Linked DNA regions of Homo sapiens. The protein of the gene in region 3 interacts with the protein of the main gene of each other region in a pairwise test. Each region holds a gene or a part of one and is shown on either strand. Other genes may lie near its edges. The genes, in order: ZNF180, SEMA4C, PEX1 and ING4.

What was found.
Region 1: the proteins of PEX1 (region 3) and ZNF180 interact in binary tests that used the Homo sapiens proteins (3 or more experiments, as listed by UniProt).
Region 2: the proteins of PEX1 (region 3) and SEMA4C interact in binary tests that used the Homo sapiens proteins (3 or more experiments, as listed by UniProt).
Region 4: the proteins of PEX1 (region 3) and ING4 interact in binary tests that used the Homo sapiens proteins (3 or more experiments, as listed by UniProt).

Annotation. Positions count from the first base shown.
Region 1 is NC_000019.10:44,497,073-44,505,164, forward strand, and holds the start of ZNF180 (zinc finger protein 180), read right to left. Parts: upstream 3,451-8,092; 5' UTR 3,203-3,450; exon of another isoform or gene 3,169-3,202; coding exon of another isoform or gene 3,126-3,168; intron 306-3,125; coding exon of another isoform or gene 263-305; coding exon 212-262; intron 1-211. UniProt on the Homo sapiens protein: May be involved in transcriptional regulation.
Region 2 is NC_000002.12:96,866,895-96,874,679, forward strand, and holds the start of SEMA4C (semaphorin-4C precursor), read right to left. Parts: upstream 3,187-7,785; 5' UTR 3,142-3,186; coding exon of another isoform or gene 2,134-3,141; intron 1,856-2,133; coding exon of another isoform or gene 1,691-1,855; exon of another isoform or gene 1,525-1,690; coding exon of another isoform or gene 1,480-1,524; exon of another isoform or gene 1,119-1,479; coding exon of another isoform or gene 993-1,118; coding exon 884-992; intron 1-883. Other genes in the region: collagen alpha-1(I) chain-like, read left to right, coding at 1,480-1,524, 1,691-1,855, 2,134-3,141.
Region 3 is NC_000007.14:92,490,327-92,497,839, forward strand, and holds part of PEX1 (peroxisomal ATPase PEX1), read right to left. Parts: intron 6,452-7,513; coding exon 6,387-6,451; intron 5,444-6,386; exon of another isoform or gene 4,304-5,443; coding exon 4,161-4,303; exon of another isoform or gene 4,071-4,160; coding exon 3,967-4,070; exon of another isoform or gene 2,804-3,966; coding exon 2,627-2,803; exon of another isoform or gene 1,177-2,626; coding exon 946-1,176; exon of another isoform or gene 917-945; intron 1-916. UniProt on the Homo sapiens protein: Component of the PEX1-PEX6 AAA ATPase complex, a protein dislocase complex that mediates the ATP-dependent extraction of the PEX5 receptor from peroxisomal membranes, an essential step for PEX5 recycling.
Region 4 is NC_000012.12:6,660,038-6,667,445, forward strand, and holds the start of ING4 (inhibitor of growth protein 4), read right to left. Parts: upstream 3,083-7,408; 5' UTR 3,065-3,082; coding exon 3,028-3,064; exon of another isoform or gene 3,011-3,027; intron 1-3,010.

The DNA.
Region 1 (8,092 bases), on a different chromosome or scaffold from region 3:
CCAAATTCCTTCCAGAAAGAGTTATCTGGGCTAAAAAGGTGAGGCAACTAGCAGGGAGATTCATAAAATATATAGTAAGTGTTAGAAGCCTGATGGCCATGAGGGCCTCAAACCCCCTAAAAGGCTGCAAAGAGAGTCAGGGAGGAGCCACAGCCTCCCAAGCTGAGAGGGTCAGGCTGCAGACAGACCCAAGCTCTGGGTCTCCACTCACCTGTGCACAGACCTTCGGGGGCTCTGGGGGCTTCTCATCCTGCTCTTCCATGCTCTCCTCCAGGCACAGCAGGGTGCTGAGGTCCTGAGCTGCACTGAGAGAAGCCCCAAGTACAGCATGAAGATGTAGGTCTGCCGGAACCGCTGGGCCCCCCACCCCCATTAGCCCCTGCTCCCAGGATGCAGGATGCATTCCCATAGCAAATGCACTTCTGGAGGTTCCTGCCAGCTTCCTGCCCAAATACCTGTGTATGTACTGAGAGTCCCTCAGTCCCTCTCCCAGGTCAAGTTTCTGCAGCTCCAACCTGGTTCCTCCACCATCTTGGGCCCCTGGACCATCTACCTGTAAGCCCAGCTTGTGCCCAACATGGCCTTCTGCCCACCACCAAAGTCTGCAGCACCAGTCCATCCCTCTCCTATTCACTGGGCCCTGGGATCCCCACAAATATCAGGCATATTGAGGACCCCCTGGTGTTCACCCCATCCTACCCCTACCAACCTCAATCTACAGCCCCAAACCAGCACTTCTTCCTAGGGCCAGAATCACACTCACTGCCTAACTGCATGAAGCTGGTGACACAGCTCCACTGCTCCCAGGAACTGATTCAACAACTAAGACTGATCCTACCGTTCCATCAGCCAGACCTGTCCCTCCAGCAACTCAGCACAGAGGGCCACCCACATCCTGCTCAAATAGCCAAGCATTTATGCACAGAGCTCAGCTATACCCACATCCTGTTCCCTCCACACTTCTGGGGTCCACTGGCTCCTACTCGAACAGCACCAGCCAGATTCCCACCCTAACACCCTCCCAGGCCCTGAATTTGTAGCTCTAAACCAGTCCCTCCACCAACTTGGGTATACTCAGGCCTGAAACTACAACAAGGCCTGCATAGGGCTGGGGGCCTCCAACAGACACCAGCACAAGCCAGACAAAAGCAGCCCTACCCAGGCTCTAAATACATGTCTCAGAAGCTCAGGTGCCTCTGTACCAACTAGGTGTTTTGGGATCCAAGACTAGAGGGCAAATCCTACCCTAGGCACCCCACCCTCTGCACTCCATCTCTCCCACTTACTCTCTCCCCTGCTCCCACCATATTCTCACGCAGCATAGCGTAGGTTCACAATGCAGCTGTTTCCTGAAATTGCACCCAAACTGTTTCCTCCACCTTACTCCACAGCCCCCTGCTTGAGCCACACCTGCCCAGATTCTGACCAAACATCTTTCGGGGGCACCTGTGGCTCAGGAAGATCCTGTCTTTCCACCAAACTGGGCACCATCAGGCTGTGATCAGGGTTCCAATCACACAAAGACCCCAGCACCCTCTGTCTAAAACTCATCTCCGGCCTCCTGTTTCCCAACCAAACACCGGTGTGTGTGCACAAGGGGTGCCTGACACAGTCCCGCCCCTCTGCAGCTGCTCCCCCCCACACACCTGGGCATCCTCAGGCAGAATCAGGGTCCTAGGACTGCCCATGCCTCCCCAATCTGCCCAAATGCCAGCACACGTGCAGAGTGTTGCTGGAGCAGCCCCGTGCCTCCTAAGACCAGATCCAAACTGGAGCCCCCAGGCCTCTATTCCACAGCCACTGCACACGGGCCACCCACCTAGACTCCCTCCTACTGATACAGCCACAGAGCAGGTTCGTGCTCACAATCTGCATCCAGGACCTGGCTCCTCTGCCCGTCTGGGGGCACACCATGCTCCTGAGTCAACAATCTACATCCCTCACCCTGTGTCTCAACCTGCCTGGGACATCTCAGGTACCCACAGCCTCTGTGTAGGTTCTGGGGTCAACTGCCCCACTATTTGCCCGCAGCCAGGACACTACAACAACTAAACAGTAGCTTGAGCATACAGCTCCATAATCAGCCCCAGGACTTGGGCACTCGCCAGCGTGGGGGTTCTCGAGCCTACGATACAGCAGCTCAATGGGAACTGGGCCCTTTGTCCTTCTCTTGCCCAATCATGACGGCCTGGGTGTTGTGCAGTCAGCTCTTCCCGGGACCAAATCTGCAGCACAGGCTCTGTCCCTCTACTAACCTGCACATTCTCACGCCTGCAAATAGCGTACCCAAGTAAAGGTCTCAGCAACACCTGCTTCATAACGATGCTGGCAACATACTGCTTCCTCCCCAGCTACCAATTTGATGGCAGCTGTTGCAGCTCTGTCCTTCCTGGACTTAAATTCTGTATCTCCAACCCGGAGTCTCTGCCCATCTTGAATGCTCTAGAGCTCTGCACTATCCTACATAGGTCCCTACTATCAGTTCAAGTTTCTGTTTTCCATTCAGACACCCCCAGGACGTGCAGGGGGCCCTCTGCCCAGAACCTGTTTCTAGGCCCTGATACCCTCCTTCAGCCTGGGAGTTTGCTGCCCATGGGTAATTCCCACCAAGGGTTCACTAGCAACACTGCCTCTTCTGGCACAAGAATCTGCAACTCCAATCTGGTCTCTCCACCAACCACAGCGCCCCCAGACCTTGGAGAAGCGCGTTGTCTGCTCTAGGGGCCCAGAGCCACCTGCTCGGAATCTTACCTACAACCTTTTGCTTCCTACCCAAATACCTGATCAAGAGTAAAGGGACAGTGGCACAGCCCCTCCTCTCCAGAAACCACAATCTGCAATGGAGCACTCCATCAACCCGGACATCCTCAGGCCTCCACTAAATAAGCCCGGCATTGGAGGAGGGGAGTTCTCAAGATGTCCCCTTACATCAATGCATGTGCCCTGTGTTCCAGCAACCTGGGCATCCTCAGGCCCCAGACAAGAGCACCACCTGACCAAGCACCCGCGCATGCACGCAGAGGACAGTCGCGGAATATACAGCTGTATCAGTAACTCCATCAACCCCGGTGACCCGAGGCTAAAGCGCCACCCGCACAGATACCAGGTCTCCCCGCTACACTCACCACCGCTTCCAGCTTCCCGCGTAGACCCTGCGCATGCGCGCATCGGACACCAAGCGCTGCCCCACGCCCCTACCAACCTGGGCGTCCGCTGGCCCGCAGCCCAGGCTGGGCCTGTCACCGCCTCAGTGCCTAGCACGGCTCTGCGGCAGGACGAACTCGGGTTAGGCAACCCCCTGCCCCGATTCTGCAACACGGCCGACTCGGGTTAAGCTAGTTCGGTCCCCTCTCCTAGTCAGCATCCGCAAGGCCGCTGGGGGTTAAGTCTGAAGGGCCGAGCTGCTCGGCGACAGCAAGCGTCCGCGCGCGGGACAATGGCTGCTCTTGTGGCCGAACCCGGAAGTGCACTTGGGCTCGGAGAGCCAGAACTACAATTCCCAGAAGCCTCCGCGGCGCGGACGGTCAGTAGGCGGGGTTCCGGCTTCTCCAAGGAAGTGGGGCGGGGGACCGGGCCAGAAGCTAAGAGGGCGTCCTCGTCCGGGGCCCGGGGGGGCGCCACACCTGTGCATGTGCAGGTCTAGGGGGAGCACTAAGACCAGCCGCGGCGCCGGGAGGCCGAGGCCAGTGCAGCGACGCATGGGGAGTCGCTCTGGCGTGACGTCAGAATCCAATAGAAATGGCGGGGACCCTTTCTGGGTGCCCCCTGCCTGTCAGACGCTGCGCGCGACCCCTTGTCTCCTCTAGTCCTAGGGGAAACCTGTGAGACAGTTGCGACATCCCCATTTTACAGTGGAGGGAGCGTCTACCGAACCCTTCAGGAATCTATGTTTTTACATTTAATAATACTAAAATATAATCATTTTATTTTTAAATTTTGAGTTCTTTCTCTGCCTATAAGGCCTGAAGGATCTGTTCCCCCCACCTCTCCCCTTTTCTCTGTTTTTGTTTTGTTTTGTTTTGTTGTTTTGAGACGGAATTTCGCTCTTGTCGCCCAGGCTGGAGGGCAATAGCGCGATCTCGGCTCACTGCAACCTCCACCTCCCGGATTCAAGCGATTCTCCTGCCTCAGCCTCCTGAATAGCTGGGATTACAGGCGCCAGCCACCACGCCCGGCTAATTTTTGTATTTTTAGTAGAGACGGGGTTTCACCACGTTGGCCAGGTTAGTCTCCAACTCCTGACCTCAGGTGATCCGCCCTCGGCCTCCCAAAGTGCTGGGATTACAGGCGTAGTCCCCTTTTCTCTTTGCCCTCATTTCTTGCCCATTTGCTTGGCACATTTTCCCCATTCTCCAACAGATCCAGCAGACTCCAGCCCCTGGTCGTTTGCAGGTGCTCTTTGCACTCCCTAGCAGCCTCTCCTGAGGGATTCATTTGGCTCTCACCGTCTGGTAATTAGGGGAATATCATCTTCTCATGAGGCATTGCCCCACCACCCGTTGTGAACTTGCAAGCAAACGCTTCCCTCCCCACATGCTCTGTGCCTCCCCCTTCATCTTTTATTTTTTTCTCTAAAGAACTTTTCACTATCTAGCACACTATATATTTTAATTATTTATTTGGTCTACTGTCCGACCTACCACTACGATGTCAATTCCATAAGGAAAAGCATTTTATCGATGTTGATCACTGCTGCATCCCCAACACCTAAAAAAAAAAAAAAGAGAGAGACCTGGCACATAATAGATGCTCAATAAATATTCGTTGGCTAAATAAAGGTTCCTGTCTCTGTATTAAACACTTTAATATTTCATTACCAAGCCCAATCAGCCTATGAGGTAGTTGTGTTAATTTTCATCCTACCAGGGAGGTAGCTGAAAATTGGAGCCCTGCTGTATGAAAATACATAATTTTTTAGTTTTTAAAATGCTTGTCAAAGCACTCCTGTAGTTTTCTTCACGTAAATTCTGACCTTTAAAAACAATGAATTATTACTATTTGAAATGTAATCTCTATCCCCAAAGCTTCTTATTATTGGTTATTGTGGTTGATCTTTTAAAAAATACTTATTTTGTATCTGGTTAACCTACTGCAATGTTATTAATTCTTACAATACTCCAGTTGACTCTCTTGGCTTTTCTATTGAGACAGTTATCTACAATTTCATCTTTTCCTTACCAGTATTTTAAATTAGACATTCTCTTTCATGTTGGATTATATTGGCTACCATTTCCAAAAAAGTATTACTAAAAGAGGCATTCTTGTTTGTGTTCTTTTAATGGACATATCTCTGAAGTTTGAGGGTTAAATGTGACATCGGTTTCTACATTGAAGTAAGTAGCTTATTTTTTTAACCTTTTATTTTGTAAATTTCAAAACAAAAGTAGGGACTCAATTAATGACTCCCCAAGACCTATGTCATCCAACTTAAATATTTTCACTCAGTCTTGTTTCATCTGTATTTCCACCTATGTTGTGCATTTGAGACCAAGATGTTGAACTCTAGAGTCCATGCTCTTAACTTTTACATTATGTTGCCGCTTGTCTACACATCAGTATCTTTCCTCTACGTGCAAGCAATACTAAGTTTGCAAACAAAACAGAAAAAGTTCGTATGTATTCACAAAAAAGCAAAAAAAAAAAGCCTTATAAGTAAATTTAGTAAGATAAATATGTCATCTGAAGAAACCCTCAAAACCTTACTGAGAGAGAAAAATGGACAAATAGAAATGCTGTGTTGCTAGCTGTGTGTTGTAAAGATGTAAAATCTTGCAGATTGATCTGCAAATACAAATATGACAAAATCAGAATGGGATGCTTTGAGTGTTAGGTCGTCTTCCTTTTTTCACTTCATTTATTTTTCTGCTAATTGTTTAAGATATTCAGAAAATAGGCCAGGCGCAGTGGCTCACACCTGTAATCCTAGTACTTTGGGAGGCTAAGGCAGGCCAATCATGAGGTCAAGAGTTCAAGACCAGTCTGGCCAACATGGCAAAACTCTGTGTCTACTTAAAAAATACAAAAATTAGACAGGCATGGTGATGCACGCCTGTAATCCCAGCTACTCAGGAGTCTGAGGCAGAAGAATCGCTTGAACCTGGGAGGCAGAGGCTGCAATGAGCCAAGATCACGTTGCTACACTCCATCCTGGGCAACAGAGCAAGACTCCATCTCAAAAAAAAAAAACAATTTTCAGAAAATAAAGCGTTAGTACTATGTAATGTAAAACTGACTTTGTTTATCTGTCTTTTGTTTAGTCTTTTTTATTTTCTTTCACAATGAACAAGGTGGTAATGTTTACTTCCAGGAACCTATAAATCCTGACTTAACCTGAATATTACAGGGACTTTAGAAGAGTTACCACTGCTGGGCGCAGTGGCTCACGCCTGTAATCCCCACACTTTGGGAAGCCGGAGCAGGAGGATCACTTGAGCCCAGGAGTTTGAGACCAGCCTGGGCAACATGGTGAAACCCCGTCTCTACAAAAAATACAAAAATTAGCTGGGCCTGGTGGCACAAGCTGTAGTCCCAGCTACTCAGGAGGCTGAGGCAGGAAGGATTGCCTGAGCCCAGGAAGCAGAGGTTGCAGTGAACCAAGATTATGCTACTACACTCCAGCCTCAGCGACAGAGCCAGACCCTGTCTCAAAATAAATAAATGAATAAATAAAAATTTTAAAGAGTTACCACTCAGGAACATTCTAGAAAGATGCCTATCTAATCTAGAGATTTATCTGTCAACTGTCGGGAAGAGCTGAGACCAAAGTTTATATTAAGATTCTGTTTATTGGCCATGAATTGGATAAGGGCTCAAGATACAGTGAAGAGCAAGAAGATTATGAATCCATTTACTATAAATACTAGAAAACAAAGTAAGAGTAACGAGAGGGTAAAAGGGCATGATCTGTCTCTAGGATGTCAGGGGGAGGGGGACATTTCTTGGCAGGGAAGAGGAAAGTTCTCAGGGTTCAAATAGGGTGGTGTTTCTGGTACTACTGAGTGCAACCCTTAAGATCCTAATTCCGGTCTCTTGTATCACATCTAATGATTAATTTTTAAAATCTGAATTAATGTTATCATCATTATGATAGCCATTCAGCTCCAAGGATAGCAACAACGCATTCTGAAAACTCTTCATTTCCAGGAGTTTTCAGTGTTGGTTTCCCCCTGTGTTAACAGTCCTTTTTTGTCTCCTTTGCTTGATCTCTCCTGTAAACATCAGAGGAACCCAGGAATCAGCTGTCAGCCTGTCCCTTGCCTTGTCTTCATCCACTCTGCTTGGGGTTGACATAACAGGCCTATTGCTCAAACTCTGTAAGTTCCCCAGAAGGTCCTGTTTTCCTGACTAGCCTTTGGGCAGCTCTGGGAACTGAGCTCTCATAATGTTCTATCTGGTAAGAGTGCTTTTGTTTGCCTGAGGCCTTGAGCCATGCTGTACCACTTTGTCCAGATGGTTTATACTAACAGTGTAATTTATGGAGGAACATCTGCTTTCCTTCTAGGAGTCTGGAGCTTCAGTGACTGACCCTTTATAAAAACCATGGACACCCAGGTTTAGGTGAGCTTCCCTCGATGGCAATGCTTCACACACGTTGTCACACATCATTGCTGGGGGATTTCCCATGTGCTGTGGTTTGGATATTTGTCTCCTCCAAAACTCATGTTGAAACTTAATCCCCAGTGTGGCAATATTGAGAGGTGGGGGTTTTTAAGAGGTGATTGGCTCATGAGGGTTTTGCCTTCATGAATGGATTAATCCATTCATGGACTAATGGATTAACGGGTTATCATGGGAGTGGAACTGGTAGCTTCATAAGAAAAGAAAGAGAAACATGAGCTAACATGTTACCACACTCAGTCCCCTTGGCATGTGATTCCCTGCACCACTTCAGGACTCCACAGAGAGTCCCCACCAGCAAGAAGTGCTCTCACCAGATGCAACCCCTAGACCTTAGACTTCTAAGCCTCCATAACTGTAAGAAATAAATTTCCTTTTTAAAACAAATTACCCAGATTTAGATATTCTGTTATAGGCCAAAGAAAGCAGACTAATACACCATGTGACTCCACTGAAAGAGAACACTTGGAAGCTG
Region 2 (7,785 bases), on a different chromosome or scaffold from region 3:
GGACCCCAATCCAGGCTGCCAGAGATGCGAGCACAGCAGGCCACTAGGACAGGTGGGGATGGCAGGAGGGGAGCTGGGCTGTGAGCCAGGCCAGGGAGGTCCGGAGAAACCAGAGGCTCAGAGAGCGGAGATGGGGCTGGGGCCTGGGAAGTCTTGCTGCCACCCGGCATGCAGGGCACTACGACATTTATACAGTCACGTGATTCCTACATCAGCTGCCAAATATGGCTGCCGACCTGTCCTCAGGGTCCCCCCAAACCAGCCTTAGTCTTTGCAGGCAACAATGGATCCAGACACAGACCGGCATGGCAGGGCTTCACTGGCACCCGAGTGGAGCCTGTGGGAGGTGAGCTCATCCCAGGTCCCCAGAGCGCACGGCTGATACAAACACCTGACATCACCTTTCACACGGGTGTGTGCACAGGGAGCACTGCTGGGTCCCCGCTGTGCCCCGGCAACCATGCGAGCATGTGCACATACACACACACTTCCAGGGCCACCAGAGTGTATGATGTGTACAGGGCAGTAGGAGGTCTTAGGGGGGCCTGGGGAGCCAGGGGAGAGAGCCTCCAGTTTATATTTATCCCGGTTCCAGTTTCTCTTTAGGCTCCCAGCGCCAGTGACAATTCAAGAAGCGAGGCGTGGAGAGGGCGAGGCAGAAGGCTCTCCCCCTCCCACACCTGGGCAGGCAGTCTGGGGTGGGGAGTTGGACAGAGCTCCCCCAGAGGAGGCTAATCCCAGGTCCCAACCCACACTGCCCGTTCTTCCAACTCGAGTTTCTTAGAAAGCTGTGCCACACACGTGAGAATAAAGCCAGCACACTATGGGGGCAACTCCTCAGCAGCCTGTCCCTGACTTCCTCCTCACCCCTCCAGGCACTCACCCCCAGAAGACACTGTCTTACGCGGCACAAGGTTCCACCACACCTCAGCCCCAATGCCCAGGCCCCACAGCCTTGCTGCCAGCAGCCAGACAGCCCAGTGTGGGGCCATGGCGCACGCCCCGGCTCTGAGCTTCAGGCCAGCTGTCCTGCTGAGGGAAAAGACATGGTCAGAAATCACAGCCAGAGAAAGCAAACCAGAGGGGCCCGCAGCAGGAGAGGCCACAGGACTCCTCATCAGGCCTTCCAGGAGCCCCGGTGCCCTCCTTCCCCTTCTCTTTGGAGGTGGACCTAAGTCCCCACACTTGGCCTCTGCCTAAAAGACCACAGGTCTCCCTGGGAAGCGGGGAGGAGTTGAGTTGGCTGAAGGCTAAACAGGCTCCGGGAAGCCCTCCCTGGCCTCCAGACCCACCACTACCTCTGCGCAACAGGAAATCATTTGAGAAATAAAAAGGGGACCCCCGCCCAACATACACACTCAGGCCTAAGAGGTTTGAGTTTCTTGAAAGAACCTCAGGCAGCAGGCCTTGCAGCCACTGGGGCTCCGGACCCTGCCAACACCTAATTCTGGGAGGAAGACTCCTTAGGGCGACGAGGGCATGCGGTGGGGTAGGCGGTCGGGAAAGCCCCAAAGGGGAAACCTGGTGCGGCCGGCTGCGAGCGGAGGTCCCGGTCCCGGCCTGTCCCCTTCCCCAGCGCAGACAATAGCCCTGCAGAACCCCAAACCCCGTTCCACATCAGCAGGGCAGGAGTGTGAGAAGGGCCGGGAGCGAAGGGGCCCAGCTTCCCGAGGCCCCTTTGTTGCCCAAGAGGGAGGCAGGAAGTGGGTGGGATGGGCGTGGAAATGACCAGGGCCTCATCCTGTTCCTCGCACTGCCTCCTCCGAAACACCAGCCCTCTGGCGGAGGGGCGGTGGGGGGACCGAGCTCGGGTCGAGTCGGGGACTCCGGCGGCGCGCGCAGGCGACGGGGGGAGGTAGGGGCGGGGACGCGAGGGGGTTCCTCCCGGGCCGCTGGCAACGCGCCGCGCACGGCCGGCACCCGCTGCGCTCCCGCGACTCTGACGAACCTTCCCAACTCGGGGACTGCGCCCCAGGGACCCTGGCCTGGGCGGGCCAGCGGGATTGGCTTCCCCTGCTCCAGCCTTCCCGTGCCAGGGGCGGAGACGCAGAAGCTGGGGACCTGCTCACCCCCAAACAAAGGGTCCCCGCCAAGACCCCGTCCCGGGTCCCCCCGGGTTCTCCCCTCCCCCAGCTCCAGGGATTTGAACGCAAACAAAGCGGCGGCGCGGGGAGCGTGGCGAGCCCGGCCTGCGGACGCCCCCTGTCGGCCCAGAGCCCCGGCGCGGGAGAGCGGGGGCTGCGCCCCAGACCAGCCCCCCAAAACGCCCGCGGCCTCATCTCGGCTCCTTACCCGAGGATCGGGCCGCACCCCGTGGCGTGCTCCGAGGATCCGCCCGGCAGCGGTGCTCCCACCCGCAGCTCCCCCCAGGGCGAGGAAACGGGCAGCCGGGAGGAGGGGTTGGGGGGAGGGGTGCGGGATCCAGGCGGGGCACCCCACACCCTCGCCCACCCCGAGCGGCCAGCCGTGGACCGCGGCCCTCCCTGCAGGGCGAGCGCTCCAGCCGGGGACGGCGCGGCCCGGCTCGGCCCGGGGGCCTGGCTTTCCGGGACAACCCGCCTCCCCAGCGGAATGGGCGGGCGGGCGGGGGGCCGCGGCAGGGAAATCCGATCCCACAACATCGGCCTCCCTCCAAGCCCGCCCCAAACTTTCCATCGGGGGTGGGAGCGCCGAGGGCAGTCCAGGAGCCTGGCGAGGATCCCGGCCGCGGACCGGACCGCGCGAGGAACCCTCGCTGGCGCGCCCCTCCGGCCCCGGGGCTGCGGGGCTGCAGGTGCTGTGCGCCCCACTCCCGAGACCCTGCGAAGCAGCCGCGGGGGTCGCAGGAAGGATCCCCGCGTACAGCCGTCTCCGCCGCCGCGGCTCCCCGCGCCCCAGCCCCTGTCCCTCCCGCGTCCGGCAGCCCCTGCCCAAGCAAAGGGACAAAGCGGCGGCTCCGGGGCCCCGCGGCTCCAGCCTCACGCAAGCCCGGCCTCGCTCACCTATTGCGCGCAGCTCCAGTCCCCGGGCGCCGCCCTCGCGTTCGGCTCTGACCGCCGTCCACCCCTGCCCCCGCGTCGCCGCCTGCCCGCGCTCGCCCGCCAGCCCTCCGCGGCCTCTCTGCCACCGCCCCTCCGTCCCCGCCCGGCTCCGCGCCCCTAGGCTCGGGCTCCCCGCGCCACCACGGCGGGCGCCGGCTCTTTCTCCAGCGCGGCCGCGGCTCTCCGCCCCCTTCCCCTTGACGTCAGGCTGGGGGGGTCGAGCGGAGGCCGGGGGCGGGCCGCGAAGGCTCGCTCAGGAGGGGGCTGCGACCCGCAGCGACCTGTGGACCCGCCCGCTCTCCGCCCGGGGGCTCGGACCTCCGCCTCTCTGGGTGCCCGGACCTCAACCCCTCCGGGTGTCCAGCAGCCCCGGGGCTCGGAGTCGCGGGCTGCGCCACAGCGCCTGGAGGGAGGTGGGGCGGGGGAGGGACTCCGGGTATGGCCACGGGGGAATCACACTCACCCGATCTTTCTGAAGTGTCCCCCGAAGACTCCGGGCGGGCTGGGCTGGGGAGAGGGACTCCCGACCGTGCAGTTGCAGGAACGACCGCGGGCGAGCCACGTCGAGGCGAGTATCCAGGGGAGGCACGCTGGGGGAACCGAGGCGTCTTTTGGGGCGGACCAGAGGGGTCTGCCGTTTGGCCCCCAATTCTGCCTCTTTCTAGGCCCCGAGGACCACTGGTCCCTGCCCTCAAGTCTGGAAAGGGCTTCACCAGCCAGGAAGACCCTTCAATCAACAGAAAGGGCCTGCTCCTGCTTCTCACGCTTTGGGCAAAGCGCCTATCCCCAGAAAATGACTCCTCGTGCCACTGGAAGGCTGATTAACAAGTGGCATGAGCCCTACTGTTCAGATGAAAGGGGCTGTGGGGAGCCACGCTGCAGAACCACCGCCACCTTCAGAACCACCAGCCTCCGCCCACAGCCACTCCTAGAAGCAACTTGTAGCTCTGGCCTCATGGGCGGTGCAGCGTCTTTCCTGCCAGCTGGTCCTCTGAGCTGGGCAGGTGGTTAGAAGAGGTGGTCCTCATGGAGGACACCCCACGGGCACCTGGAGACAGATGCTACCTCCTGGCTAGGGGCAAAAGGCAGAGGTGAAGGGGCTTGACGTCCTGAGGTTTGGAGGTAACTTTAAGCCAGGGTGCAGTCCTGGAGGGGAGGAACACTTCAGGCTGCGTCAGCAGATCTGGATTATAAATCAGTCCGACAGCAGCTTTTGTTCTGGGTTAAAACTTGGCATCTGAAAAGTGGAGACCAGAAAAGTGGTGGAGATAATTGAGAAAAGCAGCCCAGTTTGGTTTCAGTAACAATCGGGTCTTTGCTGGTACACATAATGGCCCCTTCTCCCTTGCTGGCCAAAGCCACGTTTCCCAGCTCTTTTCCACTAGGAAAAAGAAAAAAAGCTGTGGCCTTGGAGATGCTGGAGATAATGACCATGGGGTGGGCAGGGAAGGCCTCCTGCTTCAGCTGACAAGGTGGGAGAAGGTGTGTCACCCTCGTGTTTAGTTTATTCCCCGTATCTATTCAAGCGGAGGGTAAACTGAGATGCAAGTGCCCTCACTTGTGTTCTGTGCTTTAGATTTTTGCAGCTTGTCTTGATGTACATTTTCTTACTTCACCCTTATGACCACCCTTTAAAAAGTAAGTAATTTGGGAGGCTGAGATGGGAGGATCACTTGACCCCAGGAGTTCAAGACCAGCCAGGGCAACATACTGAGACCCTGTCTCTACAAAAGAAATTATTATTATTATTTTTTTTTTGAGACAGAGTCTCACTCTGTCACCCAGGCGGGAGTGCAATAGCGCGATCTCGGCTCACTGCAACCTCCACCTCCTGGGTTCAAGTGATTCTCCTGCTTCAGCCTCCCAAGTAGCTGGAATTACAGGTGCCTGCCACCAGACCTGGCTAATTTTTGTATTTTTAGTAGAGACGGGGTTTCACCATGTTGACCAGGCATGCGCCACCATGCCCAGCTAATTTTTGTATTTTTAGTAGAGATGGGACTTCGCCGTTTTGGTCAGGCTGGGCTCGAACTCCTGACCTCAGGTGGTCCACCTGCTTAGGCCTCCCAAAGTGCTGGGATTAGCCACTACGCCCAGCCCCAAATTAAAAAAAAAAAAAAACTAGCGGGGCGTGGCGGGGAGGGGTGGCTCACGCCTGTAATCCCAGCACTTTGGGAGGCTGAGGCAGGCGGATCACGAGATCAGGAGATCCAGATCATCCTGGCTAACATGGTGAAACCCTGTCTTTACTAAAAATACAGAAAAATTAGCCAGGCGTGGTGGCGGGCGCCTGTAGTCCCAGCTACTCGGGAGGCTGAGACAGGAGAATGGCGTGAACCCAGGAGGCAGAGCTTGTAGTGAGCCAAGATCACTCCACTGCACTCAAGCCTGGGCAACAGAAGGAGACTCTGTCTCAAAAACAAACAAACAAACAAACAAACAAACCAAACTAGCGGGGGCGTGGTGGCATGCATCTGTAAGTCCCAGCTACTCAGGAGGCTGGAGTGGGAGGGTCGCTTGAGCCCAGGAGGTTGAGGCTGCAGTGAGCTGTGATTGTGCCATTGCACTCCAGCCTGTAGAGCGAGACCCTGCCTCGACAAAATTAAAAAAATAAGTATTGTTGCTCCCCTTTTGGAGATGAGTCAAAAAGATTAAACAACTAGCCCCAAGTCATGGAGATAATTAAAAAAGATTAAACAACTAGCCCCAAGTCATGGAGATAATTAAAAAAGATTAAACAACTAGCCCCAAGTCATGGAGATAAAAAGGTCAGAATTTCTTTTTTAGAAACGGGGTCTTACTCTGTTGCCCAGTCTGGAGTGCAATGGCACAGTCATGGCTCAATGTAACCTCAGACTCCTGGGCTCAAGCGGTCCTCCCACGTGAGCCTCCCAAGACTACAGGTGCACACCATCATACACGGGACAGGGTCTCGCTATATTGCTCAGACTGGAAAGTTCAGATTTTTAAATCAGGTCTTGGGACTCCCGATTCTGTTTTTCCACAGAGTCACCATCTATCCTGACAATGCTCCATTTCATGCTGTTTTTCCTCACCTTCAATACTGCTCCCCCATCCCCCCACCTCTAGGTGTGAAGGTTACCAGGAGAGACCTGAGCTCGCTGGCTCTGACTCCAAGGTGGCCTCAGTGGAAAGTTTCAAAAGGCAACCGGTTTGGTTTCACTGGCAGGGCAGCGGCAGGCGTTTGGGTTCTGGAGGCCCAGGAATGTAGAAGCCTCCAGCTAACAGACTCCACGCGCCTATCCTCCCAAACGCTCTCGGAGATAAGCTCCCAGCTCCCTCCCCTTTTCCACCTTCATGCACTTCCTGCTGTATTCTGTCCATTCCAGCACTGGCCCTTTCTGTGGGTGGGTGGGCAGAGGATACAATTTCCTGCATGACTACTTGCTCATGATTCATACTTCTAAATGAAAGTACAACTGATATAAAAAAAAGATTTCTGGGTCTTCAATTAATAAAAAAATTACTAATACAGGTACCGGGGGTGGGGGGAGGTGCACGTACCTGACTAGTCTCCCTAGGGCCTAGCATATCTATGGAAGGTATCCACACTTTGGGACTCAGGCCTTGACAACTGCTTGTGGTCGTGTCAAGGAAAGACACAGAAATTGTGCTAAATGACTCTCAAGGGTCTTCAAAGATCACCCAGCAGCTCAGGCCAGCCCCTAGAGATGACCTAAAGAGTCTTTCCTGAAAAGCAAGTCCCCCTTCCCATCTCTTGATGTTGGTTGGGGGCCACACTGCCCTTCATTTGAGCTACTCACCTACTAGCTCTCCTGAGGCAGCCAGAGGGAGGCCCTGGGTGGACACTGGGTTCTCTGGTGAACGCTGCCTGGTGGATTTCCAAGGCAGCCAGGACTGCCGTCATCCCACAGATGGGGAAGTGAGAAAGCTTGGGTCAGCGCGCCTGGGGACCGAGGTGACTAGGGACATAGGAAAAGGACTCTCCCTCCCTACTTCCTCCAAAGGAGAGTTATCAAAGCTGCCCACCTGGGATGTCTTTCCCTTCCCAGCCCCTCCCTGTCACCAGTACCAAAAGGAAGCAGGAAAACATCCGTCATCACAGCCCCGGATGCGGATTTTCCAGTGGCTCCTATCAGGATATCCCCCAGCCTTTTCCCAAGGGCTTAGGGATCTGGAAAAGTCAAAGATCTGGAGGGCAAGTGGTCACATTGCCAGCACCACTGTGAAAATCTGGACCTTGGGGAGGCTGAGTCTCTAACCGATCCCAGACTAGTTTTAGAAGATCTGGTCAGCTCCCAGCCAGTCCCAGAGAGGGCCCATTACACACCCCAGGGGACAGCATACGCCCTTGGGCGACCTCACAGTGCACACCTCTGCTCGGGTTACAGCCAGGTCTCTGGAGGGACTGAGTCGTCACCGACACCTCCTCTCCCCTTGGTATCTATTTCTCTCTTGGGGATGGGTATGTTTGGGGAGCAGTAGAGGAGGGGACAGTGGACAAGAGCCAGGACTGGGGAGGAAGGCTCCAGTTATCGACGCTGATGGACAGCTCGGCTCCTTCTCAGAGCCAGGTAGGGCCACCTTCGAGAACTGGAAACTCCCCCTGTTTAGCTTCTCAGGCCTCCCTACTTCCTCTTTGCCCTTGGCAGTAAGAACAAAGAAGGGAAATTTCAAAGGTGATTTCCAGGTTTCCAGAGAAAAGTGAATAGCTACAGATGAACTGTCAGTGCATGCAGTGTTGGAGCAGGGCAGCCCGAGGGCGGGTGAAGGAGGCTGGCTC
Region 3 (7,513 bases):
CTTTTATATTTTTAAAGTCTGAGTTAGGCTAGGCATAGTGGCTCACACCTGTAATCCTAGCACTTTGGGAGGTCAAGGCACGCAGATAGCTTGAGCCCAGGAGTTTGAGACCAGCCTGGGCAATATGGTGAAACCTCGTCTCTACAAAACATACAAAAATTAGCTGGGCATGGTGGCATGTGCCTGTAGTCCCAGCTACTCAGGAGGCTGAGGTGGAAGAATCACCTAAGCCCAGGAGGTCAAGGCTGCAGTGAGCCATAATTGTGCCACTGCACTCTAGTCTGGATGATAGAGTGAGACTGTCTCAAAAAAAAAAAAAAAAAAAAGCCTAAATTAATAAAGCAAATGTACAAAAAACCAGGAAACATATAGATAACCAAACACATGTACAGATGTTACATGTACCAATAAAATTACAGTGAACCACTATTAATTTTTAGAAGAGATGTTGAATGCTAGTAGAACAGTGATACTGCCCACATTTAATCAAAACACTTTCCTGTTGAAACATTATCAGTACACTTCATTGTGCTTACTATGCAGCAAAAGTATCACAGATAACACTTTGTTTTCAGGAATTTCTTACATTATTGTATCAAATTATTCATTATCCTCAACTGTTCATGATAACAGAATTTAAGTTTACTATAAAATGGAACTGCTCCTAAAGATGTTTTAAAGCCACTAGGTAAGAGAAACCTCAAAGAAACCAAAGGTAATCACAACCACGCGCTACTTTGGTTCCTTGCTCCCAGCCCTGTCTTGAAAATCTTAACAAGGAATGCAAATTACCAATTAGTGTAAGCAAGAAACAAGACTATTTTACTGAAGAACCAACCAACCAGGAAGAATATGTGGGGCTGGTTAGGAGAGAAATCACTGCAACTTTACACCAACATATAGCTTTATATTTCAGAACTGTATAATGATGACTGCACAAGATACCAAATCAGAAGAGGTTCCATTTCCAAGTTCTGATTCATAAGAGCTTCCAAAGTAGAGCCGGTACATATTGAATTTTGATTCATCTGGAAGGATCTCGGACATCTCTAAAGAAACAAGGGACTGATCTAAGCCACATTCTCCATCTCCAGCTGAATCGTCAGAGCCACTGCTATGGTTAAGAAAGACCATTGAAGACAGACTTAGGTCACTATCAGAGCTGGAACTTCCATCCTAAAATACACAAAAGGACAACCAGTTTAAAGATGTAAACAATTTTAGTCTCAGAAATAAATAATAACATAGATAGCATTCTATTAGAGCAATACAAGAAACTTAGAAGCATTTTTCAAAGAGCTCATTAATTCTCTAACGGTTTTGAGGCACATGGTAAAAATTTAACTATTAAAATTATAAAGACAAGATAGAATGTGTAGATAATTTACCAACCATCCCCCAAGAAAGTCTGTAATGAAGCTAAGACTCAGACCTCTGGGCTTTATTTTTATGTCTCTGACTTTCCATTCATACTTTTCTACTCCAAAATGATGAATCAACCATGTTATAGAGTGCTTTCTCATTATAGAGAGCTCTACAAATACACACCTTTCTGGTAGTAAAGGGAGAGGGAAGAACTTCAATGGCTTGCCAAAATAGCAAAAACCTAGGGAGTTTCTGATTTAGAAACTGTAGGTTCTGTAGACATTCCAAACAAATGTGGTAAAGAAGAGTAATAGAATAATCCTTCCTAGAAAATATATGGTAAAGTCTATAATGTAACAGTTCAAATATCTACTGTAAATATTAAAATCATAATACTGTCTTTAGAGAAAAGGCTGATGCTAGGGCTGGGATACAGAAAGTACAAGATAAACCAAGAATATTTTTCTTTTTTGGGGGCAGGGTCTCATTCTGTCATCCATGCTGGAGTGCAGTGGCACAAGCATGGCTCACTGCATCCTGGATTTACTCAAGCGATCCTCCTGCCACAGCCTCTCCCAAGAAGCTAGGACTACAGGTATGTGCCACCATGCCCAGCTAATTTTTAAATTTTTCACAGAGACAAGATCCCACTCTGTTGTCCATAGTGGGTACAGTTTGTGCAACCATGATTTGGTCTCAAACTAGGCCCAAATGATCCTCCTGCCTTGGCCTGCCAAAGTGCTGGGATTACAGGCGTGAACCACTGCACCTGGCCAAGAATAACTTACTGTATCTGGAAGTGAGGAAGTGATTCAAGAATGATGAGGACATGTCATAAAGATACAGGAGCCATACAAAAGGGGCTCCTATTGGCCAGATTGGAACAATGTGAGCTTCAAAACAACAACTTTAACTGATTATTTTTTAAAAGTTAAAGTACAAACAAACAAAAAACTCTAATTATTTTTGTTTGTAGTATTTAATTCATGGTATCCCAATTTAAATAATATCCTTGCAAACACCAACATGTTTTTGCCAATATTAAGGTAATGTTAAAGAAACAGACATCAAACTTCATAATTATAAATTCTCTGCAAAACCCATATTCCAACTATGGAACATTCAACTAAAGGTAAATTTATGTTTCTATACAGTTTTACCAAAGTTGTTTAAAAAATAGCATTTTTTAAGGTGGAAATTTTGACATTGTACTTCTTTTATCACTCATAAAATGTCATAACAACTTCCTCATATAACTTGCCTGGAGTCCACTCGAGAGCAGCATTCCATGTAAGGCCTCCAATTGGGCATTGTAAAGTAAAGCTTTCAGATCAGCTCCAGTAAAGGAGTCAGTTACTGATGCTACATGCTGAAGGTCAACATCATCTGCCAGAGGTAGAGAGTCACTGAGGACATTTAAAATTTCAAGACGTGACACCTGAAAGGAGAAAAATTTATTTAACAAATAAAAAATAAAATTAAAAATATTATCTTAAATTGTGTATCTTATGATTTTCTTCATAAATTAACCTTATATATCTAAAAAGCTTTATAAGTAAGTTGAGAAATGTACCAACAGCCTACTATTTATCTTCCTTGGAATTTTTTCCCCAACAGAAATAATATATATAGGAAAATGAATGAAAATCAAACACTCTTAAGGCTGGGCATGGTGGCTCACGCCTGTAATCCCAACACTTTGGGAGGTTGAGGTGGGAGGATCACTTGAGCCCTGGAGTTCAAGAAAGCCTGGGCAACACAGGGAGACCCCATCTCTATACAAAAATTAATAATAAAATTATCTGGGCATGGTAGCGTGTGCCTGTGGTCCCAGCTACTCGGGAGGCTGAGGTGGGGAGATTGCTTGAGCCTGGGCCATAGAGGCTGCAGTGAGTTGTGATCGTACCAGTGTACTCCAGCCTGGGTGACAAAGTGAGACCTTGTCTGAAAAACAAAAACCCAAAAACCTACAAAATATTCAGTGTAAATAATTTCTTATTCACACAGTGCTTATTTTCTAGATTTAGGCAAGTGTGCCAAGAAGGTATTTCAAAAGGAAAATCTAAATAATTTAAATAATAGCTACATGTAACATATATACAGATACTTTATACCTTTGACTATTCATTTGTCTATCTGTTCTTTCATTCATTTATTTGTTTGCTTCTAAATTGGAGAATAAGAGTTGGAACAACACAGGACAAGGAAGAGTTGAAAAATTATCTCTATGAAACCTGCTTACATGCTTACGATTCACATGCTTGATTCTGTATCAGAGTTTTTTTTTTGACAGGATAATGGAAGTATGTAATCTTTGAACAGAAGATAATGTGAAAATATAATACATTAGGTTTCTTGCATTTTTTTTTCCCCAATCAGCCAACACAGAAGGATTACAAAGTTTTCAGACTTGCACTGGGCCAAAAAAAGGCTTTGCATCTAATTCAGAATCTTTTTATGCTTTGAGCAAACAGTGGCTAAAGCTTTTCCCTAAGAAAGCTGGTCTTCTAAGGACAATTGCCATTACCTGGCAGAAGTAAAGCTCACAAGGAAAGAGTGTAGCATTTGTTGGGTTTTGGACTCTAAATATGAAATTGTCACCTGATCAGGAGGAGGACAGTATACACATTTATCTAGTCGACCAGGCCTAAGCAGGGCAGGGTCAATCAAGTCAGGGCGACTAGTAGCAGCCAATACATAAACACCTAGAGGAAAAAAGAACATTTTTTTACCAAAATCTGATGACATGATGACATTTTGTTATAACATTCTATTTCTGTATTTATAATTATTACCCTGTAAGCCTTCTACTCCATCCAACTGAGTCAGCAACTGGTTAACTACTCGGTCTGTAACTCCTGTATTATCATGACCCCGCCGAGGAGCAATGGATTCAAATTCATCAAAGAAAAGAATGCAGGGCTTTGCAGCCTGTGCTCTGGGAAAAACAAACAACATTTCATATTTGAATCAGGCTTCATAGTTGGCAAAGTGATTTCATATACATATATGAATGTATTTATTTTATGTATTTATATATATTTATATACTTCTTTTAATTTTTACAACAAACCCTTAAAGAAGGCAAGTTGTATGTAATTACATATAAATACATATAAATGTATTTATATATATTTATGTATTTATTTTAATCTTTACAACAAACCCTTAAAGAAGGCAAGGCATATGAAATTACCCTTGTATTCAGTAAACTGTTGAGGTCAAGGTGTTTATTAAGACCCATGCCTTCTGGATAGACTAACAGGGATCAAAACAAAAACTGACTCTTAGTCAATAAGTCAAACACTTTTGATTCCTATTACAAGTAACCATTTTTATATTAATATATACTTATTGGCCACCCTTCCTTCTTTTGTGAAATGCCTATTCATTTATTTTGCCCATTCAAAATTTGGAAAGCTCATTATGTTGGTACTGTTTTGTAAGGGCTCTCTATAAAATATATTTTATTTCTTTTACTTTTTTAATAATTTGAACTTTGACTTTGTTTTATTAATTTATTAACAAATTTTAATTCAAAATAAGTGAATATTAATTCCATATCTGGCAACAGGTGGACTAGATGTCTGGCGAATAACACCTAATATAAAACACCTGTCACGGTGATTGAAAAAAATCAACAGCTATCTCATTAAATGCATGGCAAGTAAAATATATCTTCTGGGGCCAAAAATAGACCAGAATTATCTGCTACTTGAATGTTTGGCAAAACTCTCCTAGAAAACTGAGTCTGATGTTTGATTTGTGTAAAGACTTCTTTAACTTTTCTAACTCAATTTTTACTAAGTTACAGGACTACTCAGATTTTGTTTCTTTTTTGCTCAATTTTGGTCAATTTTGTTTTTGTCTATGTCACCTAAGTTTTCAAATGTATTGGCATGAATATTTTCATAATATTCCCTTATTATCTTTTACATTTCTGGGATATCTTTAGCGATGTTTCCCTTTTTATCCCTAAAATTGTTTATTCATGCTTTCTTTTTTCTTAATCAAACTTGTTAGAGATTTGTCAATTGTACTCGGTGTTCAAAAAATAAATCTTGGCTTTGTGAGCTTCTCTGTTTTGTGTTTCATTAAACTTCATTCTTATCTTTATTATTTCCCTTTTAACATATTTTTTAGTTTATATCTATAATTTTCCTAATTTCATGAGATAGATACATAAGTGGTTAACTTCTAACCTTTTTTCTTTTCTAAACATTTAACACTATAAATTTTCCTTGAAATCAGTTTTGCAACATCTAACAATTTTAATGGATAGTATTTTCATTATCGTTTGCTCCCAAATATTTTCCACTATAACTTCTCTTTAACCCAGGAATTACGTGGAAGAGGTTTATTTTGTTTATGCTTTTTCCTGGTAAACTCGGTGGTGAATACATGAAGTATTCATTTTATTATTCTTCCTTAAGCTGCATATGTATTTTATGTATATTCTCTTAACTGTATACTTTATAATAAAATTTTTGGAAGAATAAAACAGTAACTTTTATTTTAAAACTCCCCATAATGCTATCACATTTGAATAATTATTTTCATCCTTAAATACCATCTTCTGTATTCATATACAGTTTTTTAATATATGCAAAATAGTTACACTCACTGAAATTAAATTGGCCAGATGGACTCTTGACTTATAAGAGATAAATTAGAAACTGGGGGAAAAAAGAATTTAGAACTTACAAAATTTAGAGATAAATTAGGGGCAATTATTTGCTTCATATAAGAATCTACTCTGAGATTTCTTTGAATAACCACTTCGATTCCACTTTGAGGAGTATTTCTATTGTAAAACAAAACCAAATAATTTCCAAAATTTAATATCTAAAATGTTTTGTATTATTTGATGAAATAGAGAATCCACGTCCTCTAGCTTATTAATAATTCACATAAACCACAGGTTTCAAATATCAGTTCTTCAAAAAACAAGACCAAAAAAAGCACTGATTGATAAATAATAACAGAGTCAGTTACTTTAAAAACATTCATAGGCTACCAACCTAATAAAAATATCCCGAACAGCTTGTTCACTTGCTCCAATGTATTTGCTGAGTAACTCTGGCCCCTATTGGGTAAAATAAGAGTTGAGATAAAATTATTTAAAAAGAAAATATAAATTTGGTTTCTGACTAAGTCTAAATGAATCATGGAAATCTTTAATATGATTAAATGGATGTCTTTTATACATTTTTAAAATTAATGTGTGCTAGAATAAATATCATACCACAAGTTCTATGCTTGATGCTTCTGCCCAGAACATTTTCCCCCGGATATTCTCATGGCTTGTTGCTTCATTTTATTTAGATCTCTGCCCAAATACCACCTCTTCAGAAACCCTTTCCTGACAAGTCCATCTATGACTCACTCCAGTTACTCCAAGCCTCCTTACCCTGCTTTTCTTCCTACATAGGACTTACCACCACCATCTGACAGTGAATTATATACTGAATGTGTCTATCTGCTTGTTGTCGCTTTCCACTAGTAGAATGTAAACTCCAAAAAGGCAGTTTTGTTCACTGCTGAATCCCTTGTGCCAGAAACAGTGTCTGCCACATAAGTATTGGATAATAGTTTTTCCAAGTGAATAAGTGAATGGTGTAAGAAGGGACAAAGTCCCATCTATCTCAAATTTTAAAAAATGTGTAGAGATATGACTTTAATCAGCATCTTCAATTACTGAAACAATGTATTTTCATAGGAGTTAAAGAATATATCATTTTTAGAACATGTGGGAAAAGGCCAAAAAAAAAAAAAGAGAATATATAATCTTCCCTAAAAGCCAACTGAAAAACCTTTCGAAATAAATTTCCCTGCATATAGCAAAATCAATAATGAGAATAGTCTTTCCTTAAATTGGGATCTTAAAAAAAACCTGAATAGGTCCTAAAGTCATCTCTAGTGAAAAATCACTATCTCCAGAAGACCAACTACTGATCAGGATATGTGACCAAAATAAGGAATTTCTAATATTCAACCACATAAATATCTATTAACATAATAATATTTAATTACATTTCCTCAATACAGTCAGAGAACTATAGGACTAGAGGAGGGAACAAGAAATAACTAAGGCAAGACCGGGCACGGTGGTTCTCGCCTGTAATCCCAGCACTTTGGGAGGCCGAAG
Region 4 (7,408 bases), on a different chromosome or scaffold from region 3:
TTTCCATAGTGTTTAGAATTATGACTTGCAAAGAGCAGGTACTCAGTAAATACTTGAATAAATGCATGAATATTTGTCACCCCAGTACAAGAGAAATCTCTTGCCAAGACTCCACCTAAAACTTTAAAAATGCCTCTACTTGCTGGGCACAGTGGCTCACGCCTGTAATCCCAGCATTCTGGGAGGCCAAGGCAGGTAGATCGCTTGATCTCAGGAGTCTGAGACCAGCCTGGGCAATATGGCCAGATCCTGTCTCTATAAAAATTAAATATATATATAAAAAATAAAAGGCCTGGTACGGTGGCTCATGCCTGTAATCCCAGCACTCTGGGAGGCCAAGGTGGGTGGATCACCTGAGGTTGGGAGTTTGAGACCAGCCTGGCCAACACAGTGAAACCTCATCTCTACTAAAAATACAAAAATTAGCTGGGTATGGTGGCGGGCACTGTAATCCTAGCTACTCAAGAGGCTGAGGCAGGAGAATCACTTGAACCCGGGAGGCAGAGGTTGCAGTGGGCCAAGATCGCACCATTGCGCTCCAGCCTGGGTGACAGAGTGAGACTCTGTCTCAAAAACAAACAAACAAACAGAAAAACTAAAATAAAATAAATAAAAAAAAATAAAATGCCTCTACTGTTTAAACCTACAACTTCAGGTCTGCTACCACCAGTTCACAAGACTGAGTCACTGGTGATTTACCAAATCTAATGGTGTTATTAAGCCTATCCTAAAAAATATCTCTGCAGCAGTTGGCATGATCTTTTCTCCGCTGAGTAACTTTCTTTTCTTTTCTTTTGAGGTGTAGTGTCGCTCTTGTCGCCCAGGCTGGAGTGCAATGGCGCAATCTCAGGTTCAAGGAATTCTTGTGCCTCAGCCTCCCAAGTAGCTGGGATTACAGGCGTCTGCCACCACGCCCAGCTAATTTTTGTATTTTTAGTAGAGACGGGGTTTCACTATGTTAGCCAGGCTGGTCTTGGAACTCCTGACCTAAGGCGATCCACCCATCTCAGCCTCCCAATGTGCTAGGATTATAGGCGTGAGCCACCGCTCCCAGCCTTTTTGTTTTTGTTTTTTTTTTGAGGCGGAGTCTCACTCTGTTGCCCAGGCTGGAGTGCAGTGGCATGATCTCGGCCCACTGCAACCTCCACCTCCCAGGTTCAAGCGATTCTCCTGCCTTAGCCTCCTAAGTAGCTGGGACTACAGGGGCACACCACCACACCTGGCTATTTTTTTTATTTTTAGTAGAGACGGGGTTTCACCATGTTAGCCAGGCTGGTCTCGATCTCCTGACCTCATGATCCGCCTGCCTCAGCCTCCCAAAGTGTTGGGATTACAGGCATGAGCCACCGTGCCTGGCCACCAGCCTTTGTTTTTTTTTTTTTTTTTTTTTTTGAGAGGGACACGGAGTCTTTCTCTGTCACCCAGGCTGGAGTGCAGTGGTATGTATGATCTTAGCTCACTGCAATCTTCACCTGCTGGGTTCAAGTGATTCTCCTGACTCAGCCTCCCAAGTAGCTGGGATTACAGTCACATGCCACCATGCCCAGCTAATTTTTTTTTTTTTTTAAAGTAGAGACTGGGCTTCACCATGTTGGACAGGGTGATCTCAAACTCCTGACCTCAAGTGATCTGCCCGCCTTGGCCTCCCAAAGTGCTGAGATTACAGGCATGAGCTACTGTGCCCAGCCTGTCTACCTCACTTTCTAAGCAGGAAGAAGCCACCTTAGATTCTTCCTTCTCTCTCAACCACTCAGTCATTCAGTCAGTCCTTTCATATTTAACTCCTAAATACTTCTGTAACTCCCTAAAATCAGGTTCTTATCTCTGTCCTGGAATGTTATCACTAATTGATCTCTGTTATCAACAATATCATGCTCCAATTTACCATATATTAGTCATTTTCCTCTATAAAAATCATACTCTACTTTAAAATGCAAACTTCTTCGTTTGGCTTAAAAGACCTTGTCCAATCTAGCCTCAGCCTCTTTCTCCAGTCTCCTTTCTCAATTTCTTACCTTAGATTCATAAATATCAAATACGCTGACCTCTGAGTCATAAATATCAAACACCCTTGACCTTGCCACAAACCCATCACAGTACCTTTGCGGATGCTTTCCCCAACCTGGAATTCCTTTTTTCTCTCCTCACTGGCAAATAACCTTCAAGACCCTATTCAAACATCACCTCCGCTGTAAAGCTTTTCCTACATCCCCAGGTAATTACCCCCCTTTTCTCCAGGGTTGCCTACCAAGTGTCCTTTTTAATGTATTTCCATTATCTCACTTGTCACAGTGTTTTATAATTATTTGCAGAATCTGTTTCCTACTAGATCGTGAGCTTCTTGAGGGCAGGAGCCTTGTCTTACTCATTTTTCTATCCCTAGTGCCTGCCATTATGTCTGACCCATAGCAGGACCTCAATAAATATTTGTTGAATAAATGACTCCGGGCCCTAAAACAAATGTAAGCGCACAGAGCAATAGGCTTTCTGCAGGGGTGGTTTACATAAATCGCATAAACACCAGATTTTCATTTGATGGGAATTAGATCTTTACTCCATGAAGAGAAGCGTTCTAGTTCATCATCTGACAGTGGTCACTCATCACCACCACTCTCAACCCCATGAGAAGCCACTTTTGAGGAAGAATGGAGTGGAGGAGAGGTCTTTACCGCTTCTCCAAATGGCAGTGTGTGATAACGATTCTGAACGACTATGGGGAAAAAAATCTACCGAGGCTGGAGACCCTGGAGAATGGGGGCAGCAACTATCTTCCTGGCCATGCACACTAGCCCTTCAAGACACGTCTCTAACCCCCACACCGCACCCCTCCCTCGTCTACACCCATCAGCGGGGCCTCGATCCTGCTGCCCCGCCCCCTCTTTCTCCGCACCCTCCAATATTTCCTGCCACAGAACCGCTTCATAATTGTGACCTTCTCGTCACTGGAACTTAAGGGCTACAGATCCTCTCATCCCTGATCCCCGCACCACTCTGCAGCCCCGACCCCCACCTCCAGCCTGCTCTTACTGTCCAGATAATGTTCCAAATACATCCCCGCAGCCATCTCGAAGCAAAACAAAGCAACTTCCGATCCGCCCCGGAAGTGACTGTAACGCGACAGGGGCCGAAGCCATTTTGCGGCTAAAGCCTTTCCGCCCTTAAAAGGAGAACTTCCGCCCTTAAAAGGAGAACTTCCGCCCTTAAAGGAGAACTTCCGCCCTTACTATATTACCGCCGGTACACATCCGCCCGACACTGAAACTTTTCCTTTTGCATGGTAGCCACGACCGCCCACAGTGAGGCGGCTGTAGCCCGCTTCCGCCCTTACAGACACCCCAGGACGCGACCGAGACAGGTATGACGTCACTGGAGGTCGCCATTTTGCATTCTCTAGCAAACTTTTTTCCCTCCAAAACGGGAATGTATGGTAATCCGTGCAGGGGTAACTGTTCACTTTAGGCTCATATTGCGTAAACATACCTTCTCAGCAACTGGAAGATCCAACTTTTTTTCCCTCTTTTGCAGAATGACTTTTTTCAAGCCAGTTAGTTTCTTAAGGAAGTTGGGGAAGAGTATCAGGCCTTGAGACATTTAAACCGTCTGAATTTCTATTCACTCACACAAACACCATCTCCCCCAGCATTATTTTTTTAACTTGAGAAAGATGATCACCTTTCTACTTATAAATACAAAGAATGACTCATAATAAAGCTATAATTCTGCACATCTTTTGTCAGAGCTCCTGTACGTTACACTAGAATACACTTTCACATATAAAATATTACTTCCTGCCTTGCCCTCTTGCTTTTTTTTTTTTTTTTTTGAGACAGAATTTTCACTCTTATTGCCCAGGCTGGAGTGCAATGGCGTGATCATGGCTCACCGCAACCTCCACCTCCCGGGTTCAAGTGATTCTTCTGTCTCAGCCTCCCGTGTAGCTGGGATTACAGGTATGCACCATCACGCCAGACTAATTTTGTATTTTTAGTAGAGATGGGGTTTCTCCATGTCGGTGAGGCTGGTCTCGAACTTCCGACCTCAGGTGATCTGCCCACCTCAGCCTCTCAAAGTGCTGGGATTACAGGTGCGAACCACTGTGCCTGGCCCCTCTTGCTACTCTCTAAGGGGGAAATCTCGTGTTTTTGTTTTCCTTTTGTTTATATGTGATGTTAGCATCATAATTCTGAAGGGATTGAGGGATGCAGCAGTATCACTACTGGGCTAGTTGGCTAGTTAGTTGCTAGCCATCACTCTAGTCAGCTATGGTAGAGTGATTTCTATGGTTTTCATCAGAATGGGAAGCAGTCAAGGGTATGAGAGGCTGCCAACACACTAGGCTGTCAACACACTGCCAACACAAAGGCCATAACCTAATAGTGGTGTTAGTAAGATAGTATTTTAGAGATAGCTGCCACCCCTCACACTTTTCGTACCCTCACACATCCTTCATAAGAATTACCAATGTCTTACGGCAAGTTTTTAAAGAGACAGACTTTCAGCTATATAATTTCTACCAAATATGTGGAGAAGAGGAACTTCCAACCCGGGGCGGATTGGAAGTTGCTTTGTTTTGCTTCGAGATGGATGCAGGGATGTATTTGAAACATTATCTGGACAGTAAGAGCAGGCTGGAGGAGGGGGTTCAGGGGCTGTAGAGTGGTGGGGGTATCAGAGCTGAAAGGATCTGTAGCCTGTAAACCCCAGGTTTACTAGTGTGCAGGTAGTAAGATACAGCAATAGAATCCGGGAAACTGCTCTAATTACAAAAGTCATGCTTTTCGGTAACTTGATCTCTGTGCCTGTTTTACTATACAATGAGACTACTACCTCCCTCATAGGGTTGTTGGAATAAGTGAGTGTGAGTGTATCCATAAAAAGAGTAGATTCTAGTTCTAATACTGGTGATGAAGTTAGGGCCATTAGGGCCTTTTCAAGAGTTGGTGAGAGTGGGAGGAAAAAGCAGTAAATATGCAGGGAGCTAAGAAACATTGGCATATTTGGTCATATGTGATACATTCATTGGTATTACACAACATATTGAGACACCATCTTAGGTGCCCACACAGGATATCTAGCACTAAATTAAGTGGGCTTTATTTATCCCAGCCCAACTACATAACAAGTACTATTGGCCAGCAGTCCCAGAGTTCTCAGGATGTGGGAGCTTGGTCACAACTTTCACAACTTTTTCGGTGCTTAAAGCAAGGTTTTTTTTTTTTTGTTTTTTTTTTTTTTTCCAGACAGAATCTCGCTCTGTGGCCCAGGCTGGAGTGCAGTGGTGCAATCCCGGCTCACTGCAACCTCCGCCTCCCAGGTTCAAGTCATTCTTCTGCCTCAGCCTGCAGCTGGGACTACAGGCGCGTGCCACCACACCTGGCTAATTTTTGTATTTTTATTTTACTTTTTTGAGAGAGAGTCTCACTCTGTCGCCCAGGCTGGAGTGCCATGGCACGATCTTGGCTCACTGCAACCTCTGCCTCCTAGGTTCAAAAGATTCTCCTGCCTCAGCCTCCTGAGTAGCTGGGATTGCAGGCGCCCACCACTATGCCTAGCTTATTTTTTGTATTTTCAGTAGAGACGGGGTTTCACCATACTGGCCAGGCTGGTCTCGAGCTCCTAACCTCATGATTCACCTGTCTCGGCCTCCCAAAGTGCTGGGATTACAGGCGTGAGCCACCGTGCACGGCCATCAATTTTTGTATTTTTAGTAGAGATGGGGTTTCACCATGTTGGCCAGGCTGGTCTTGAACTCCTGACGTCAAGTAGTCTGCCTGCCTCGCCCTCCCAAAATGCTGGGATTACAGGCGTGAGCCACCGCACCCAGCCTTAAAGCAAGTTACTTAATTCTCAAAAAAGGTATCTTCAGAGTTATCTAGTCCAATCCCTTCACTAACAGTTGAAGAAGCACCCTGGCCAACACTGGTTGATGGTAGGCAAAGGGCTGAAGTCCAGGTTTCATGACCACATTCTACTCCATAGTACTACAGCTCTCCTGCATAAATCAATCTTGCACCCCTTAACCGGTTATGATTTCCACAAGGTAACAAATACACATATGTATACACATTGCCAACTGCAAGCCCCTCTTCCACAGACTCAGGCAGGAGTGTAGGTCCTTTCAAGAGGCTTCCATTTTTCTTCCATAGGGAGCTTAGCTGTTTTGTTAACACATAACCAAAGCCTTGCTCTCACATATTTAGGCAATGCAATCCCCATGACAGAATGTGTATGTAGAAGTCCTCATAAACCAGGATTTCACTGGAGACATCATGAAACTGTACCCTTCCATGACTGGAGAATTGCACAAATGGGGCATCATCACACAAGCACTTGTTCATCACACACACACTCTGGTATAAATCCTCAGTACTGTTCTTGGACATCTCCCCAAATACCTTTTCCGCATGCTCGCTCACATCAGTAGCTCCACTGCCTCTGATCCTTTTACATGAATTTATTTCTATACAATGTTCTAAAAACACCCCTTGGTTTGTACATAAGTTTTTTTCTTTTTTTCTTCATTTTTAAATTACTTTATAACAACTGGTTTCCTGATTTTTTTTTTAATTTCCTTTCCTCTGAAATCTGCCATGATTTAAAAAAAAAAAAAAAAGACAAAAAGAAAAATGCTGTGGCTAGAGGACAGGGGTGGAGAGAGGGAAAAAAAGGACAAAAATAAACAAAACATCAAATATGAAAATTCTCAGAGATAATGCATTTATAAACACAGAAATGGTTACAACAAAGATGGCCGTGATGAGTGAGTATAATATATTTATATATATATATTTATATATAAATCCGTGTCCGGCATCTGACTGTGGCACCTAGGGAGCTAAGTCCAGTCCTTGCGTTTGCCTTGAACTCTCCCTTCTCCGCAACACCCCTGTTTTGGAGTTTCACAGATAACACAAAGCCTCCCACAGCTCCTTGGGGGTGGGTTGGGGAGACTGAGAGTATAGGGTCTTTGTAGGCAGAGAAGGAGAGAGGCTTCAAGGAAATCCGTAAAACCATAACACACACTTCTAAGCCACCTGTGACCAACTTGGGAATTTCTGGCCCCTTGGGGACCACATCTCAGCCCTTGCCCCCTTCAAATAAAAGGAGGTCTAGCCCCTACCCCAAATCTCCTTCTACCAGCAGTCAATAGGAAGCAAAGTGAGACGATGTAGGGGAAGAAATGGCTCTCAGGGACTGAGGCATTTGAGAAACCTCTGTTCTTTTGCAGGCAAGAATAGAACAAGAGGCTGGTTGCATTTGGGGCTCCCTTTTCTCTGTTATCTGGGAGGGCCAGCCTCTAGTCTTACATCAGCCCAAACTTTGAGGATAAGGAGGGTAAGGATAGGGTAAGTGGCCACACTGGACAAGGTTCTATGAGGTCATAGCAAATCCTTCCCTTGAGCACCGA